Linked DNA regions of Homo sapiens: region 2 is linked to region 1. Evidence: fine-mapped expression QTL. Tissue or cell type: whole blood. Region 1 holds a variant in brackets; the other region holds the start of a gene. All regions are shown on one strand. Distances are between the middles of the regions. Region 1 has its middle 94 kb from the start of DLEU7-AS1. Region 2 holds the start of DLEU7 (deleted in lymphocytic leukemia 7).

The links.
Region 2: DLEU7 starts here. The variant in region 1 is fine-mapped to the expression of DLEU7 in whole blood (TOPMed, PIP above 0.99).

What each region holds. Positions count from the first base shown.
Region 1 is chr13:50,710,145-50,718,480 of GRCh38, reverse strand. It overlaps a transcript of DLEU7 not described here. Among named protein-coding and RNA genes, the nearest start is that of DLEU7-AS1, 94 kb to the left of the region's middle. The variant G/A (reference allele first, on the strand shown) is at 4,294.
Region 2 is chr13:50,838,678-50,847,013 of GRCh38, reverse strand. It overlaps DLEU7 (deleted in lymphocytic leukemia 7), which reads left to right and starts at 3,322. Exons shown (of 2, transcript NM_001306135.2): 1 at 3,322-3,826. The coding sequence starts at 3,368. DLEU7-AS1 (DLEU7 antisense RNA 1) reads right to left here. Exons shown (of 5, transcript NR_046551.1): 4 at 6,920-6,986. RefSeq lists an enhancer at 3,466-4,392.

The DNA.
Region 1 (8,336 bases):
CTCCAGCCAATAGCCCCTCATTCTAATCACCAGAGTGGGGAGCCTTTGGTCTTCACAGGACTTCACGTTCAATCAATTGCCAAGACTTGGAGTCTCCATCTTTGATCTTCTTTTTCTTCTATTTCCTTCTTTAAATTTAAATGGCACCCAAATGGTTCCACTGTCTCAAAGCCTTTTCTTTGGAAATATGTTTCCATGTTATGTTTTGGGCTGAATTTATGTATTAATTATTTATTCTCAAGGAAAAATCCAAAGTTGACCATTTCTCATTTCTGAGATAAAACGATTGTTGTCTTTTCATCAGCAACATTTTTTTTAACCTGGAGCACATTGATACATTTAAATTAGTGCTTCTTAAATTTCAATATTCATAGAAATCACTTGCAGATCTTGTAAAACAAAATATTCTGATTCTGTAGGTCTTGGGGGAGGGCCTGAGATTCTGCATTGGAAACAAGCTCCCATGTGATGCTGATGAGGCTGTTTAAGAAGCACTTTGAGCAGCAAGATTTTAAATTTTCCCATAGCTATGTCAATATTATCTATAATGTCTTGGCATTGGTGGTGATTTCTGCATGTGATAGTTTGAGTTTTTGTTCCATTTTCATTTTGCCTGCTTTGTAAATGTCATTCTAGGTGCTTGCTTTATAACAGAATAGCAGAATTGATGCAACTACATTAAAACAGAAAGGGAGACATAGTGTCTGGCTGCCTTGGGCATTGCTGTTAGCAGAAATGGAAGTCTTTCAGGGGTCTTAATTTTTAATAGCTATGCTATCAGATTCTCAGTCTTGGCATTAGGGCTAGGTGTTAGAACTTCTCATAAAGTGTTCTGATTTATGGACTCCCTGCTCCTTACCATAAAATGAAGAGAAATCCTAAATTTGAAAAAAAAAAAAACCCACAGCCTAGCTAATGAGACTTCACGCTATTTGTTAATTAATAAGCATTTAATAGCATGAAGATCAGAATAACTCCAGTTTGCAAAATGTACTTACCATTTTGGAAACATCAGCAACTGAAAAGTGGGTTACATGATACAATGAGTGTAGTTGCCTTTCTCCAGACCTGTTCTGTTTCCTTGCCCTCTCTGGCCTCTTTCTGGCTCCATTTACCTTTTCCACTAGTTTACCAGATGATTCATCAACTTTCTGGCATTTTCCACTTACCATCTGTGTCCAGCATCCTGGTAAAATCCAATAAACTTTCTAATATCCAGCATCCCATTAACTATATCCTTGTATATAGCAAATTCACTGGGAGTGGATAGTCATATGATGGCCTCAAGGCAAAGGGCTCTACCACTTTTTGAATACCCACTGTGTGCCAAGTTCTGTGCTGGTTGCATCAACTAAATCATCTCACTTAAAGCTAAAGTATTAAAGATCCTAAAAAGCCATTTTACAGAAAGATTAGATTATTTTCAATTTATTATTCAGAATAAATATATCTTTTTTCTTTAACTTCTCAAATAGTTATTGAATTGTATTGGTTTAAATTAAATGCGTCATGTGTATATATAGTATTAATTCAAGAGATACAAAAGGAAATTGAGTGAAAAATAAGTCTGCCTCCTTCCCATCACTCTCATGTCTCTACCTAGAGGCAATTATTGTCAACAGTTTTTGATGTGTCTTTCAAAAAATAGTCCATTAAGCCTGGTGTACTAGATCTCTTTTAAAAGTTTACAACCTGTTACAGAATATATATAAATGTTCAATTACTAGTAACACCTTATTACATATACAGATTACAACTTAGAAATATATTTTCATGACCATTATGTCATTTGATTCTCCCTACAATCCTATGAACAAGGCAGGGGAGACATTGTTGTTACCACCTTACACATGAAGAAACCAATGCTCAAAAATGTAAAATGATCTGCCCACGTGTATATAGTTAGTGAGAGTCCCAGTTCTAGAACAATAACTAGTCTAATGCTCTTTCCGTGACATCACGGAAAAGGTAGCCCAAGGATTAGAGATCAAAAAACATTAGCCTTCCTCGATCAGTCAAAGTACTCTTTCTGTATAGTGTCAATTAACAGAGAATTTACTATGTTCAATATGGTACCAAGAGGGCATTATTCCATGTAAATAATATAGCATATAAAAACTCAATATTCTGGCTTTGCAACTGTGGTCATTAAGCTGTAACCAAACATTTCAATGAAACAAGGGCTTGAGTTCCTGTTAATGGAGATGTTTGGCCCTTCTCTTGAGATAGCCCTTGGTGATCAGAACCTACACATTGCTAGAGAAGGGTTGGGGCATTTGTGAATCTGGTCTATTAAACAAAAAAGACCAAGCAGGAAGCAATTCTATTCTTTCTTAGAACTGCCCAGTGAACTTGTTTCCTTATTTGGTGATAAAATCCTAGGTTGATCTAACATTTATGCCACCTTTCAGTTACTAACAAATACTTTGTGTTTTGAGATCTTGAAGGTCCAGTTCAGTCTAACATCAAAGCTTCCTGTGTCCCCAGCCCAGACCTGCCTCAGCAGGGTGTGGAGGGGAAGCAGTGCATGGCCAGGTGGCAGGGAGCTGCAGGGTAGCAGCAAGGTGTGCCAGGGCATGACAGCCAAACTTACCTTTCTGCTACTCTTCTTTGGCTCTTCTGCTGCCTTTGGGTCCTCCCACATCAGAACAGCAGTAGGGAGGAAAGGCAAGGTTGTGATTTGGTAGCATTATCTGGCATAGACGTTGTCTGAAGGCCGATGATTTTCTCAAGTGGAATCTTCGGAGTTTTTCCGAAACACCTCCACTAGGGAGCTGCCATTGTAGCTTCCTAACACACGTCTCCTCCAGCTATGACTTCCCCTCCTCCATCTCCGACTTCTTCCTGCTGGGGTTCCTTGTGTCTCCTGTTGGTTCCTCCTTTTGAGTGGAGCCCCATTCTCGGCTGATAGCCCAGTTCCGTTCCCTGAGTCCTCCAGGGCAACATCCCCTTTGCTGCGCCATCGGCGGAAGTGCGACTTCTCCAGCTCTCGCCCCCTTTCTCCTTTAGCTGCCACCGGCTGCTCTGTCTAGCTTCTCACCTGCTGGCTTTTCAGGTACTAATCTCTATGTGGTAGGCTGAATAAGGCCCCCACCAAAGATGTCCTTTTCCTAATCCCCAGAACCTGTGAATAGCTTACATTACACGGCAACAGGGACTTTGCAGATGTGGTTAAGGTAACAGATTTTTAGATGAGGGGATTATCCTGGATTATCGGGTAGGCTCAAAATAATTACATGATCCTTTAAAAGCAGAGAACATTTCCCGACGAAAGTCAGAGAGATGAGGCCTCGTGAGAAGGATTCCACACACTCACACTCTCGCTGGCTCTGAGATGTAGGTGCCCTTGTGCAAGAATCAGAGAGAGGCTGCAAGGAGCCAGTGGCAGTTCCCGCCGACAGCCCGCAGGGAAGCAGGGACCTCAGTCCATCAGGCAAATTGAACTGAATTCCGCCAACAAGGCGCAGAGGCCTGGAAACAGATGCTTCATTAGAGCCTCTAGGAGGGAGTACAGCCTGGCCAACACCTTGATTTCAGCCCTGTGAGGCTTGAAGCCCACACACCAGCCGCGCCCACTGGACTTCTAACCTACAGAACTGTGAGGTAGTAATTTTGCTATTTTTAAGCTGTTAAATGTGTGCTAATTTGTTTCAGCAGCAATAGACACTAATACATTCTATGTTCCCCAAAGCCTAGGGGTCCTAGGTCAGCTCTCCAAGTAATTCTCTGAAGGCCCCCTCTTATTTGCGTAAGATGAGGGGAAAACACATGAGAAGGGAGGAGGAAGCATTTTAGCAGCCTGAAAGCTCTGTCTCATGAAATCCTTGCCGTCCTCATTAATTTACAAGTCTCCCCTTGCGTAGCTAAGATTTGAGCGATGGTTTCAGGGTTATTGGACCATTTTTTTGGTCACTCCTTAGCAGATGACATCTCCTGAGAATAGATGAGCATTTTTAACAATATTTTTTTTTCTCAGCTCAAAGATGTCAGCTAGCACTGAGAAAACAGGAAAAGTCTCATTTTAATATCCTGTTACTTAAAGGTATTCACAGAATGGCTTACCGTTTTAGGTTTAACATTCTAATGATATGCCAGATGGACTGGGGTTGCTCGGAAAAAGCTGGGTGACAGGAGAAGGAGTTGAGATCCCAGAAAGAGAATTCACCACTAGGGTGGGAAGACAGACAGGTCAGAAAATAGCCACGTTGCCCAAGACCGGAATTAATGTGGATGAAACAACGCTTCTAGCCCTAGACCTCAGGCATGGCGGGATCCAAGGCAGAGGTGAGAAGG[G/A]AGTTTGTGTTCAGTGGCTCACCAGTAAGCAGGACTCTTATGCCTTCCTACAATGATCCTGCAAGAATGGAATAAACTGAGACTACATAGCTTGAGTATGTGCAATAGTTGACCACTTCCTTTCTGTGTTTTGTGGTTTCACAACTTGAGTTTCCAACAGAGCATGGGAGTGAGGGGAGTCAGAGACAGAGCAGCAGTTCTGTAACACAGCCGACAGTCTTCATGAGGGTAGGGGCAAGGCCCTACTGCCCGGTCCGGGAGGCCACATGCGGGCAGAGTCTGGGTCGTTTTCACATCTGCGGAATGATGTGTGTCTGAGGAGGGAGGCAGGTGGGAGACAACTTCCTTACAGTCCCCATCCCGTGTTGCTGCCTTTAATGAGCTTTTAGGAGGCATGATTTCATAGCCTAGTTTATTTTATAATCAAGCCCAGCTTCCTCTGTTAGACCAATCAGTACCTATTAACTGAATGCCTACCGTATGCAGGCTTATGACGCCAGGAACAAATACGTCCATGATGCTGTTGCTGTTTAGGAATTGTAAGATCATGGATAGAACCCCTTTCCTGTCAAGAGCTCACTTTTTCCATAGAGTGAAGGGCAGCTGTAAGGTTATTTCTAGAATTCTATTTTCCTTCCCTTCTCATTTCAGGAAGAAGAAGATGAACATAAAATACAAAGAAAAAGATTAATATAAAGTATAAAGATAGCTATAGAGAAGTCTTCTTCCTGGGTTGTTTGACTCGAAATTAGGGTCCTTCTATGCATATTTTGTGTTTCTCATGTAATTATCTATAATGGGTAGCCAAGAAATGTGTGTTAGCCCATATCTCCAGTACCTAATGCCATTCCTAAAATGCAATATAGTGCTCAGTAAATAATTGTTGAATCAATGAATATAAAAAATGCAAAGCAAGCATTTGAGATATTATGCTACATTTCTTTCAGCTTCAACTCCTGGCTAATGAGTGAAGAAGGTCACTGTAGGAGTGTGAGGACCATCAGGAGCTTCATATTTCAATAACCAGTGCCAAATTCTGAATGCCAGATGGGATGAGATGGGATGTTAAACCACTTCTTATTACCACGTTGTTGGCCTCCATTGCCTTCGTATTGGTCTCCAATTGCATGGTCTCTGTGGATCTCTGACTTCTTATTACCTCCGATTGGAACGCGCCACAAATCATCCTGCTTTCTTTATCCTCTCTCACCTCCAAGTAATCCTGTCATCTTGCTCCAATTAGAGCCGCTTCCATTAAGAAGATCGTGACAAATTCCCTACCCCTGTTTGCTCTTCAGGAAAATTATCCCCTGGAAAAGTGGATGTTATAGTCGCTTTTCAGAATGTATTGTCTGAATTTCTTGTCTTCCAACATTCTCCTAAGCCAGTTACCTTTGCACTGAAGTAGAATTCAAAAGGAGATAGAGGTTCTGAATTTCTTCCTTTGACCAGATGGAAGTCGTTACATCAGAATGCTGATGACTGCAAAATCTTGGACATATTGTTTTCACAATTAGGAAATGGCAAACACAAAGTTCTTCAGTGCAAAGCCAGCATGCGAGTTCAGCTTCCATTTGCTGCTATAAATTTTGTTCTTGTTGCTGCCAGTAAACACCAACTGTTCAAGTGAAATAGTAAATCCAAATGTGCCTGTTGGATGAGAGTAAAAAAATTATATGCTGCATAAATGCTGATGCAAAAGGATTTTTCAACACACTAAACCAGGGTAGGGAAAGGAACCGAGAAAGAAAGTTGAACTGAATGCAGCTCTCACTAACAACTTCTTGGTAAAAGCACTAAAAAAGCTCTTGATAGAATGTTGATTCAACATACTGTTTAAACCTCAAGGAAAAAAACAAACGCAGAATTGGGATATTGGCCTTAGGATATCTGCTTAAAGTCCTACTTTGAGCTCTCATCAGGGTTACCAAAGAAGGCGTACATAGATTGTTACAAATCAAAGCAAAGAAAAATCCCAAAGTTCCCTCAAAACTGATGTGGGCACTTGGCCCAGAAGTTGTTTGCTAATGATCAGTCTAACAGCTGAAAGTCAAAGTCAGTGGCTAGTACCATCTGCAATAGGATTTAGGAAGTTTTGATCTCACAAATTTACTGTAAGGCTAATCAATGAATGTTTGTACTCAGGTCTCCCTACAGTTAAATTTAATGTGTAACTGGAATTACGATTCAAAGAGATAGTTTCATAAATGGTCCCTGAAATTTAATTTTGGATTACCTAAGTTTACAATGGATTTCTCTTCTCCTTTCCCCAATATTTTTCTTACGCAGAAAAAAAAAAAAAAAATCCTGTGTGACCTTGGAGCTGGCTGCCCTGAGTCCCAGGCTCTGATTTGATTCTGATGCTCCAGAGCCTGCTTTCTCATGTAGGTATAGGTAGTAATGCCCCCCGCCCCCGCCACTGGGTCATTGTGAGGGTTAAACAAGATAATACTTGTTAAATGCCTGGCACAGCCCTTGCACATAAAATGTCCTTAATAATATTAATTCCCCTTCCAGATTAGACTTTGCAAACAAATGATTGAAAAACAGAACATTCACGTGGATTGGATTCTCTAGCGTGATAAGGCTCCAGGCCAAGAACCATGCAGTAAAGATCTTCCAAACCAAAGTATTTCAGCATCTGAGAATGGCTAGGGCTTATCTTCATGGCTAAAATAAGCATTTTAATATAAAGCAGGCTTTTTTCTTCATTTTCTTATGGAAAGGAAAGCATTTTCAGAATAATGGTTAAAATCTGTCCTTTGTAGATCTGAAAATGTGAGCAAGTTTCATACCGAAGTCAAGATCTACTGAAAGTGTTAGATGAATATATAAGGACCAGACGCTGCTGTCAAAAATAAAACAGATGCTGGTGTCTTGAATGCCTCCATGTGCCAAAGCTGAGTTCTTTGACTTATTTTTGTCATTGAATTAATTGGTATATCTGGTTTAATTGGCCAAATTGTTTTTGCTTAAATGTTCACATTTTCATTGTTATATTGATATACTCAATATTTTTGAGGGTACAGAAAATACCAATATTGGCAAATTTGGTATTTTTGCCAATTTTGTGTGTTCAGAAGAAAAATTGTTCATTTCCAGATCCCAGATTTATGGAAATTTAAAAATATATAGTAAAGTGTTGGTTTCTCCTTATGGTTACATCTGAATGTATATAAATTATCAGAGTCTGTGTGCATTTATTTCCATAGAAAATAATACCAGCAGAGACACAGCCAAACCAAGTTGAACCTTGCTGAGTGGATTTGAAGAAACACAGGCCAACTCAGGGCAAGGCAAACCCAAGAGATAGAAAGTCTAAAATAGTAATAATCAGCCTTTGAAACATTTTCCCTTGAAAAAGGCATCTCAGTCCCATCCTATATTTACAGACCAGAAGAGACACACATGTGTTCTACGTATGACACAGAAAGTAAAACCAAAAGGCTCATTCTGAATGCCCAGTCCAGCTTGAATTGAAACCTTTGTGAAAAAGTAGTGCTTTTGATTCAAAGGAGCTCAGGTTTGAAAGGGAGATGTGAAGTCTAACATCCCATCTATCTGATGCCTGGTCTTCCTTTACACAGTTCTGGCAAAGATGCCAACCAATTGATACTTGAACATCTATAGAAATGAGCAACTCATGCCCTAGAGAAGAACACTCTGCCTTTGAATAATATTATTAGAAAATGTGTTCTTATTTTGGACCAAGGCCTATTTCTCTGTAACTGCCACTTATGGCTTCTATTTCTATCACTCAGGGGTCACAGGCAGGCAGAATTCCATTTCCAGTGACAATTAGTCTTACAAACATTAAGGCAAAGCTCACAAATTAGCCCACATAGTATTTTAGATAATTGTAAATTAGCTACTAACATTTGAAAATTAGAAAACTACCCACAGAAATTTGTATTTTCAACTAACGAAATTGCTGATTCTCTGAAAGCAATGGGCCACATTCCCAAATGGTAAAACTAGTACCCCCTTATCCACAGTTTCACTTTCTGCAGTTTGAGCTACCTGTGATCAACCATAGTCTGAAA
Region 2 (8,336 bases), 130 kb before region 1:
CTTCTCTCCATGAGTGCTGGCTCATTCATAGGCGGGCTGTCCCCATCAAACTCACAAGATGGCTGCAGAGGCTCCAGAACTTGTATCTTCTCAGCTTTACTTGCACAGGGGTCACTGAAGTCAGATATTTGACAGTAGAAAGATCAGCCTCATGAAACTGGACTTGCTGTGTATTGATAAAGAGAAGCAGCCCTGGAAATCTGATATATTCTTTACCTGGAAACCCCTGCAAAATCCTCATTGTTCTCTGTTGCCATTGCTGATGCTTGGTAACAAAACCTTGCTTCATATCAAGTAGTTTTCATCCTCCCTCCACCAATTGCTTTGAGAGAGGCTAGGCTCAGCCCCAACTCCTACACTGAATTCTAGTTCACCTTAGACTCTCATGGTAGCCTCTTTCCTCTTGACTGTGATTAATTAGGCAAGAACATGTGACACAATTCTGGTCAAGGAGATGTGAGAGGAAGCCAGCTGAAGGCTTTTGAGAAGTGTTTCCTTGCTCTTGAGAAGGAATACACAGGAAAAGATGGCCTTTTCTTCTAGTTATTGTTGTCTAGACATGATGCCAGCAGCTGCTAGTAGCCATAGGAGAACTAGCCCAAAAATTAAGGACAAAGCTGATGTGCTGGGAATGGCATGGCAGAAAGAAGGAAGGAACAAAGGGCTTTGATGACACTGAGGAGCTGCTATATTAACCAACTCTGGAGCCACTCTGCCTTTGGACTTCTTGTGATGTGAGACAATAAATTATTCTTATTGATTAAACTATGTTATGTTGAGTTTTCTGGTTTAAAGGGAATTTGATCTTTTGCTGTTTCATCTCTTGGCCTACACTTCTTTTTTGGCCTGTACTCTTTGCATCTGTTGTTTTCTCTTTTACAGTGCATTCAGCTGAAAGCATCCTAAAAGATACTGTCTCATTGGCTCTAGCTGGGTCATGTGCCCATTCCTGACCATGCATGCACTGTGGGGATGTGATGTGTGATGGGACTTAGGCTAGATGATCCAGTACTCTTCTGCAGTGAGATGGGCTCATCCCATCTGACTTCACGGGCAGAGTGTGGAGGAAAAGGCATATCTACTGAGAAATGAGGGTATGATTTCTATAAAATAGTGAAATATATGTTGTGAAACAAACATATCAGATATCTAATACTTTGTCCTTTTGAATGTGCCCTTTATTACAGAATGGCCTCAAATCGTGAGTACAGTGGGTAAGAAGTAGGCTATCTGTTACTTCGTCTGGTAGCCCAGCAAACGTAACTACGGAGGTGTTTTAGACCAAAGGTAGATCTGCTATGCTATTGACTCATCTAAATAGACTATGAAAATTTTTCCTGAGTTAGGCTCTCATATCTCTAGCTTTGGAACACAAGCCATTTTGAGATCATAGCAAAACACAGTGCGACCCACAGCCAAAACAGACAAAACACTCAGTTGCCAGATGATCCAGGGCTTCCTAAGAATACTAGAAAAAGCAGGCAGCAATTTAAGCAGCATGTGCCATCCCTCAGGCCCCAAGGTTTTCTGGCACCCTTCTGTCATGCCCCCTGAGGTTCAGTTGGTCTCATGGCTCTGACTCAGTGTGGTATGTAGAAGAGTGGGGCCTCAGGTCAGCCTGTGTCTAGTGATTTCAATTCTGCTCTTGGCTGCAATTCCAACTGTCAAGAAAGTTTTGCAGTCAGCCATTTGATAGTGGAAGGGTTAGCCCATGAAACTGAATTTCCTGTGTATCTGGAAAGAGAGGCAGCCCTAGAGATCTGACATGCTCTGTGAAAATTAGGGGTTCATTTTTGCTATTGCTGGTTAGTCTCTGCTGAACCTAATATATTTCAACATTTGAAGACTTTTTTTAAAAAGAAAATTTTTTTCTTTCTATTTTTTATTATGAACTTAAGTAACTTCATGGCAAAAAAATCTAATCAACATTAAACTATTTACTTCCCTCCAAAGTAATTTCCTCTCTGTCAATGCACAGACGTGCATTTTTACTTAGTTATAATTAGTGTGAACATACTCGTTTTTGTTTAAGAAAGGTTTTCTTTACCTTGGCATTCAGATTCGTTTTCATAGGCGAAGAAAGCACTGGGAAGGAGAAGGAACCTTTGCTGGCAAGTTGGGAGGATTATATGGGGTCATACTATCCCAGGGTTAAGGAAACCTTAAAGGACCCAACATCCCTCTCCATATCTCTTCTGATGATCCTTTTGTGCTCACAGACTAACCAGTGTGGCCTTTTCACTCAAAAGCCTCTCCAGATCTGCACAGCACCAAGGGTGCAGTCTGGCTCCCAAAGGAGTAATGCAATTCCATCCTCAGGTCTGCCAGGGCCCACCTGTCTGTCGTGGGCATGCACCATTGCCCTGGCTTTACTGGGCTGTTGGGTTGTCTAGTGGTTTTCCTTGCAGAAAGCAAGCAGGAACAATGCTGCTCCGGACTGGTTTTCCATACCACTCCTCTCAAATATCTTCTATTTTCTTAAGTGTGATCACACACCCATGGTTTCCAATCTATCAAAGCATAACATTGCTAGTCGCTTTTTTCTAAGTTAAGGAAGTAGCCATGTTGGGTTTAATTAAAAACAGCAACTATTTGTACAGCTGTCCCTAAGTTCATGGCTCATAAAAGGATTAACTTCAACCTTGCTGCCTAAGTCTTTTGGGAGTGTCACAAAAAAACATTTAGGCTTTTCTGGGCAGTGCCAGGCCTGGGCCTTGAGGCTTGCTGATGCTAGTTCAGCCACCAGGCTCTCGGTGCTCAAGTGGCACCCAGCAAAGCAGAGAAGAGCAGAACTTCCAGATACACAACTCCTCCTTCTTTTGTTTGGGGGATGCAAGGCCTTGAAGGCTGCTTCAACAAGTTTCTGAAAATTCCCCTCGGGTTGGGAAAGGCACAGTCTTCCTTTTGCAAGTTTTTCTAGAGCCCTTCGTACTTTTGCCCTAGAGTGGGTCTTTTGCACCCCCACCTCCCAGACCTCAGTGGTCATTGGCAGGCATCCTTCGAAGGAGGTGGGGGCGGGGTATCCCCGCCGATGGATGCGCCCGCACAAAGCAGCACGTTTTCTCATCAAAGCCCTGGAGAGAGGGAAGAAGCAACGCTCAGCATTTCGCTGATTTTCAAGTGCACACCGAGCAGCGCTTCAGGCAGCTTTGGGTCAGAACACGCCTGATTCGGACTTCAGGCGAAGGCAGAGGCCAGCACGGGTCACCGATTCAGAGCCGGGGGCGGGGCCGACCACACACGCTGTGAGACCCAGAGGCCGAGGAGCCGCGGGTTAGAAAATGTGACCTTGGCGACCCCAACGCCCCCGCCTCCCTCGCTGCTGCTCCACCTGCACGCGGAGCGCGCCGGGCCGCCAGCGGAGGCGATGGCCAGCCCTGCGCCCTTAGTGGCCTCCATCAGCCACCAAATGGTGGCTCTGCAGACCTTGCAGCTGCTGCAGCAGGAGTGGGGCTGGGGGGACGGTCCAGTCGCCCCCGGGAACCCGCGGGACCCAGACCACGTGTCCACCGCTCCAGCCCGTCGCTCAGGCCCGCCGCGGGCCCGGCCGGGGCCCGGGCGCGAGGAGCGGGGCGGGGGCGTGGGGACCAGGAGTCGGCGGACCGCGGCGCGGGCGAACTCCCCAGAGGAGGAGGTAGTGCGAGGCGCTGAGGGGGGCGCCGAGTTGCTGCCCTTCCCCCGGGACCGCGGGCCCTGCACCCTGGCCCAGATGGCGATGCGCAGCGCGCTGGCCCGCGTGGTGGACTCGACTTCGGAGCTGGTCAGCGTGGAGCAGACGCTGCTGGGGCCCCTCCAGCAGGAGCGGTCCTTTCCCATTCACCTGAAGGTGAGTCTGGCCCCCGCCATCCCCTCTGGCGTGCAGGGTAACCTCCCATCCTCCAAGGGTGGGGCTGCTGGGATGGCGATGGGTGGATCGCAGGATCCCAAACACTGCTGCCCACTGTGATTCAGCCCCAGTGGGAGAAGGAAGGGGGCGGGGGACACTCTGGGGACTCAGCAGGAGGGGCAGGGAGCCCCAGACCCACCTGAGGCCCGCCTGGCTGGCACAACCGAGATGTGGGGACTGCCTTGCCAAAACCTCCCCCTGGAACTCCTTCCTCTCTCACATAAATCAGCTTCCTGCGCTAGAAAGGCCCTTTCCACACGTGCAGCTTGTAGGGATAGAGGACAGCTCCCCCCACCCACTTTCCAAATTAATAACGCTTCCTCCAGAGCCTTAAATACACTTACTAAGTCCCTTCTGCCTTTTGTATGATGAAATCATCTACATTTATTTAAAGTTCCTTCACATTCATGAATCACTATTATTTTTTGCATAAATCCAATTCCCCACAGAGCTAAGGGGTCTTACAGAGTCAACCTACATTCTCATAAAGTGGGGTGAGAGCTGGGTGGGTCCCGGGTGTTAAAGCGTGAATACTAAATGCTAAACTCTTGCTAAGTCACCCAGCTCATATAGGTAGGGCACATTTCCTCTTAAGGTACCAAACTGTGTTAGCCAATTTAGCCCGGGAAGGGAGCAGCTGTCTCCCAGGCTGAGTGAGATTGCGGAAATCTGGGGGTCTGGGTTTCAGTCCTGGACTTGCCATTAACTAACCTAATTGGTTTAAGGTCACGAATCTCTCTGAGACATTCTGGCTTTCAGATTTTGACCAGGAGCATTGCTGTATTTTATTTCCCTGGGGCATCTAGCAGAAGGAGTTGGGGAGGGGTGATGAGGAGAGCTTAGAATATGTCTCAAGAGTTGCTATTCTGTACAAGCCAAGGTTTGGAAAAAGTTGCTATACATTAAGTTGCACTATACACTGTAAAAGATTTATTTAAAATCAAACATAATAAAGCCTATTATATACCCAAATAGGTATTGTTTCTCTACGTAGGGGTTTCTCAATCTCTGTACTATTCACATTTTGACCTGGCTAATTCTTTGTTGTCGGGGGTTGTCCTGTGTATTAGAGGATGTTTAGCAGCATCTCTCGCCTCTACCTGTTAGATGCCAGCAGCATATTCCTCGCCGCAAGTTGATACAGCCAAAAATGTCTCCAGACACTGCCAAAGGTGGCGGGGGCGGTGGGGTGGGAGGCAAGATGAGAAGCACTCCTACACTCACTTTAGAAAGTTAGAAAATGAAGCTGCATTTCACCAAATGCTCTCCAATGTAAGATGTACTTTTTTTTGGTATCACCAAAATTTTTTTTAATCCTGTCATTGAACTATGATACACCATTGATTATAAGTTACATGCTAATTTAAGGGATTTTTTTTTTTTTTTTTTTGAGACAAGGTCTGCCTGTGTTGCCAAGGCTGCAGTGTGGTAGCCATTCACAGGTGCGATCATAACACTACAGCCTCGAGCCCTGGGCTCAAGTGATCCTCCTGCCTCAGCCTCCTCAGTAGCTGCAACTACAAACCTGTACCACCACATCTGGCTGATTTCAGGGATTTTTAAAAAATGTGAATAAAAGTGCATTTTAAAATAGATGAAATATGAAGTGACTTGTGATGTCAGTAGCACATACAGGGCATAGGTAAGGCTGGCAAAAAGAGAGACTGACAATCAGTTTTACCTAAGGTGACCCTGGAAGGCTTCTCAGAGGAGGCAGCCTTTAAAAAAAAAATACATGTTATTTTCCAGACATTAAAGGGAAAAATATTTCAGGAGAATACTTTGGTTAAGGCCCAGCAGCACTGAAAGGGACTGAGGCTCTAGAGGAACTACAGTTAAGTTCAATATGGCAGAAGGCAAAAACTGATGCTGGAGACACAAATGGGGGCCAGTTAGGGAAAGGCCTGTGTGTCATGCTGAGGACCTTGGATTGTCTTGCAAGCAGAGGGTAGGTAAATCACAGAAGCCTGGATAAATCACAGAAGGGTAGGTTTCAGTTTGAAAGTCAGGTCAGAAGACAGCTGTCTAAGGGCTTGACCCAACTCAGTGGCAATGGACTAAACCCCGTGTCCTCTGCTCTGGAAGCAGTCCACTATAAACTATGCCATTTTAGCTTAATGCCACAGTCACTTCTACTTGGAAATCCTTTTAGCCCTTTCTAATTGACTTTTGATTCTAAACATTTTCCATCCTCCTCAAGCCTTCTTCATCCAAACCTCAACCCGCTCACACCTTTTCTGAGAAAATAGAGGCCAGTGGACAGAAATATCTTTCTACCTAAAAAATTGCATTTCTACTCATCTTCATTTTTGTTTCTAAAATTCAAGTGCTGCCCCCCCATCCCCATGTATATTCATGTTAATTCCACTGGAGCAAATCTTTCACTTGCTCCTGGACCTGTTTCTATCAATTTTCTCTCTCCTTACATTTTCTACCGCCCCCTCTTTGCTGACCCTCTTGGTCCATAACACTCTTTACTTACCCAGCCCTTGAGTCCCCATCCTTCCCTTCCTTGTCATGAGCAAACTTTGAAAACATTTAGATGTACTGCTTCCACTTTCTAGAAGTATACAACTACTGGAGTCTGCTGTTCACCCGCAGGGGGATAATGAGTTTTAGGGCCCCTGGGAACAGCGAGGGCTTTCGAGAGAAGCAGAGAGCAGTTTCTCTGCATGATTTGTTCCCTTGGGAGCACCTAGGAATTTTGCTTGGTTTGCTGTTTGCAGAATAGGTAATATCTCCACTTGGTTTGTAGAGTAATGATTACACAGCACTTAGACTTGAGGAGATGGCATTCTGTCTTTCCAGGGGGCTGGTTATGCAGACTTAGCTTCCTTAATACTAGTGTTAATTCAAATGACTTGGAAGGGTGTTTTGTATATTTTTAAATTGGGAACATACAGATTTTATACAATAGAATGGTTTCAGAAATCCTTGCAGGAGGATTTCCGGGAATGGAAATAACTATTTTGTATCACCTAGAAGTACGTGGGAACCTCCCCAACATCAGATCTCTTTGGTGGTGTTACTTACCACGGAAGGTAGGAGGAAGACTCACTTGAACTAAAGCCCATGGCGCAGATGACAGGCATTAGAGATCCTGCAGTGGAGAGAGCATAGCACAGCAGTCAAGTCCCATGGAGCATTTCAAACCTACTCTTCCACTTCCTGTCATTGGCCCTTGGGTAAGTTATTTAGCCTTTCTGTCCCTCAGTTTCCTCCCTGTATAGTGAGGACAATGGTATCTAACCTAAAGGGTTACTGAGATAATGCATTTAGTCAGTGGCTTCCCAAAGTTAATCTCCATCTATTTGAGCTATTATGATTATCATTATTATTACTGTTAACAGGTTGATGCCTCATGAATTCTTATTGACTGTTATTTTTGTGAATTCTATTCTTGATATTAATGAATATGATCCATGAACTCTGTGTCTGCTTTTCTGGAACTATTGACAAAAACAGACTTAGGATGACCCAAAGAGATTTCCAGGAAGCCTACACTATCTAGAGGTCAGCTTTAGCCTCATGCCTAGTGACAGGCTTAGAGGTGTCACCAGTGAGTGACTCACTGATCAATCCACCAGAAGGTTAAGGCAGTGAAATCTGCAGGCATGGAGGCAGAAAAATTCTCACCACAATGATAACAGACATTTAAAAATAGGATTTTACTCTTTAATTAAAGAAACCAACACAATACTCCTTTTGAACACTTAGAAATGATCATACACATGCAAACACCTATTGCAGTGAGTTTCTTCATGGTGGATGAAAAATGCTTAACAGTACTAAATCTTATTAAATTTGCTGCAGAGACTAGGTTTAACCAGCTTAACAAACATTTATAATAGGAGGAAACTGAGGCTTGGAGGAATTGAGGACTTTGCTCAAGACCCTGCAGCTAAGAAGTGATGGGTTTTATCTAACTTATTCTCCTACATTACAGTGCTTGCCCTTAGGGGCGTTATGAACATCATGCTGAAATTGTGTATGTGAGAGATCTTAGGGGCCGTAGTTGTACATGCTGTGCACTGTGTACACTGCTTGGACTACAACAGTCACATCGTAGCCTGGCAGCTCTGCTTGCCATAGCAAAATACCAAAGACGGGGTGACTTAAATAACAGACATTTATATTCTCCCTGTTCTGGAGGTTGGAAGTCCAAAATCATGGTGCCAACAAATTCCATTTCTAGTAAGAGCTTCCTTCCTGGCTTGCAGACAGCTGCCTTCTCGCTGCGTCCTCACATGGCCCGTCCGCAGTGCGTGCAAGCAGAGAGAGAAAGCTTTGCATGTCTTTGGTGTCTCTTCTTATAACAACACCAGTCCTATCAGATTCAAGCCACCTTGTAACTTCAATTTATCTTAATTACCTCGCTAAGACCATATCTCCAAATACAGTCACATTGGGGGTTGAACATATGAATGAGGGGACCACACAATTTAGTCCA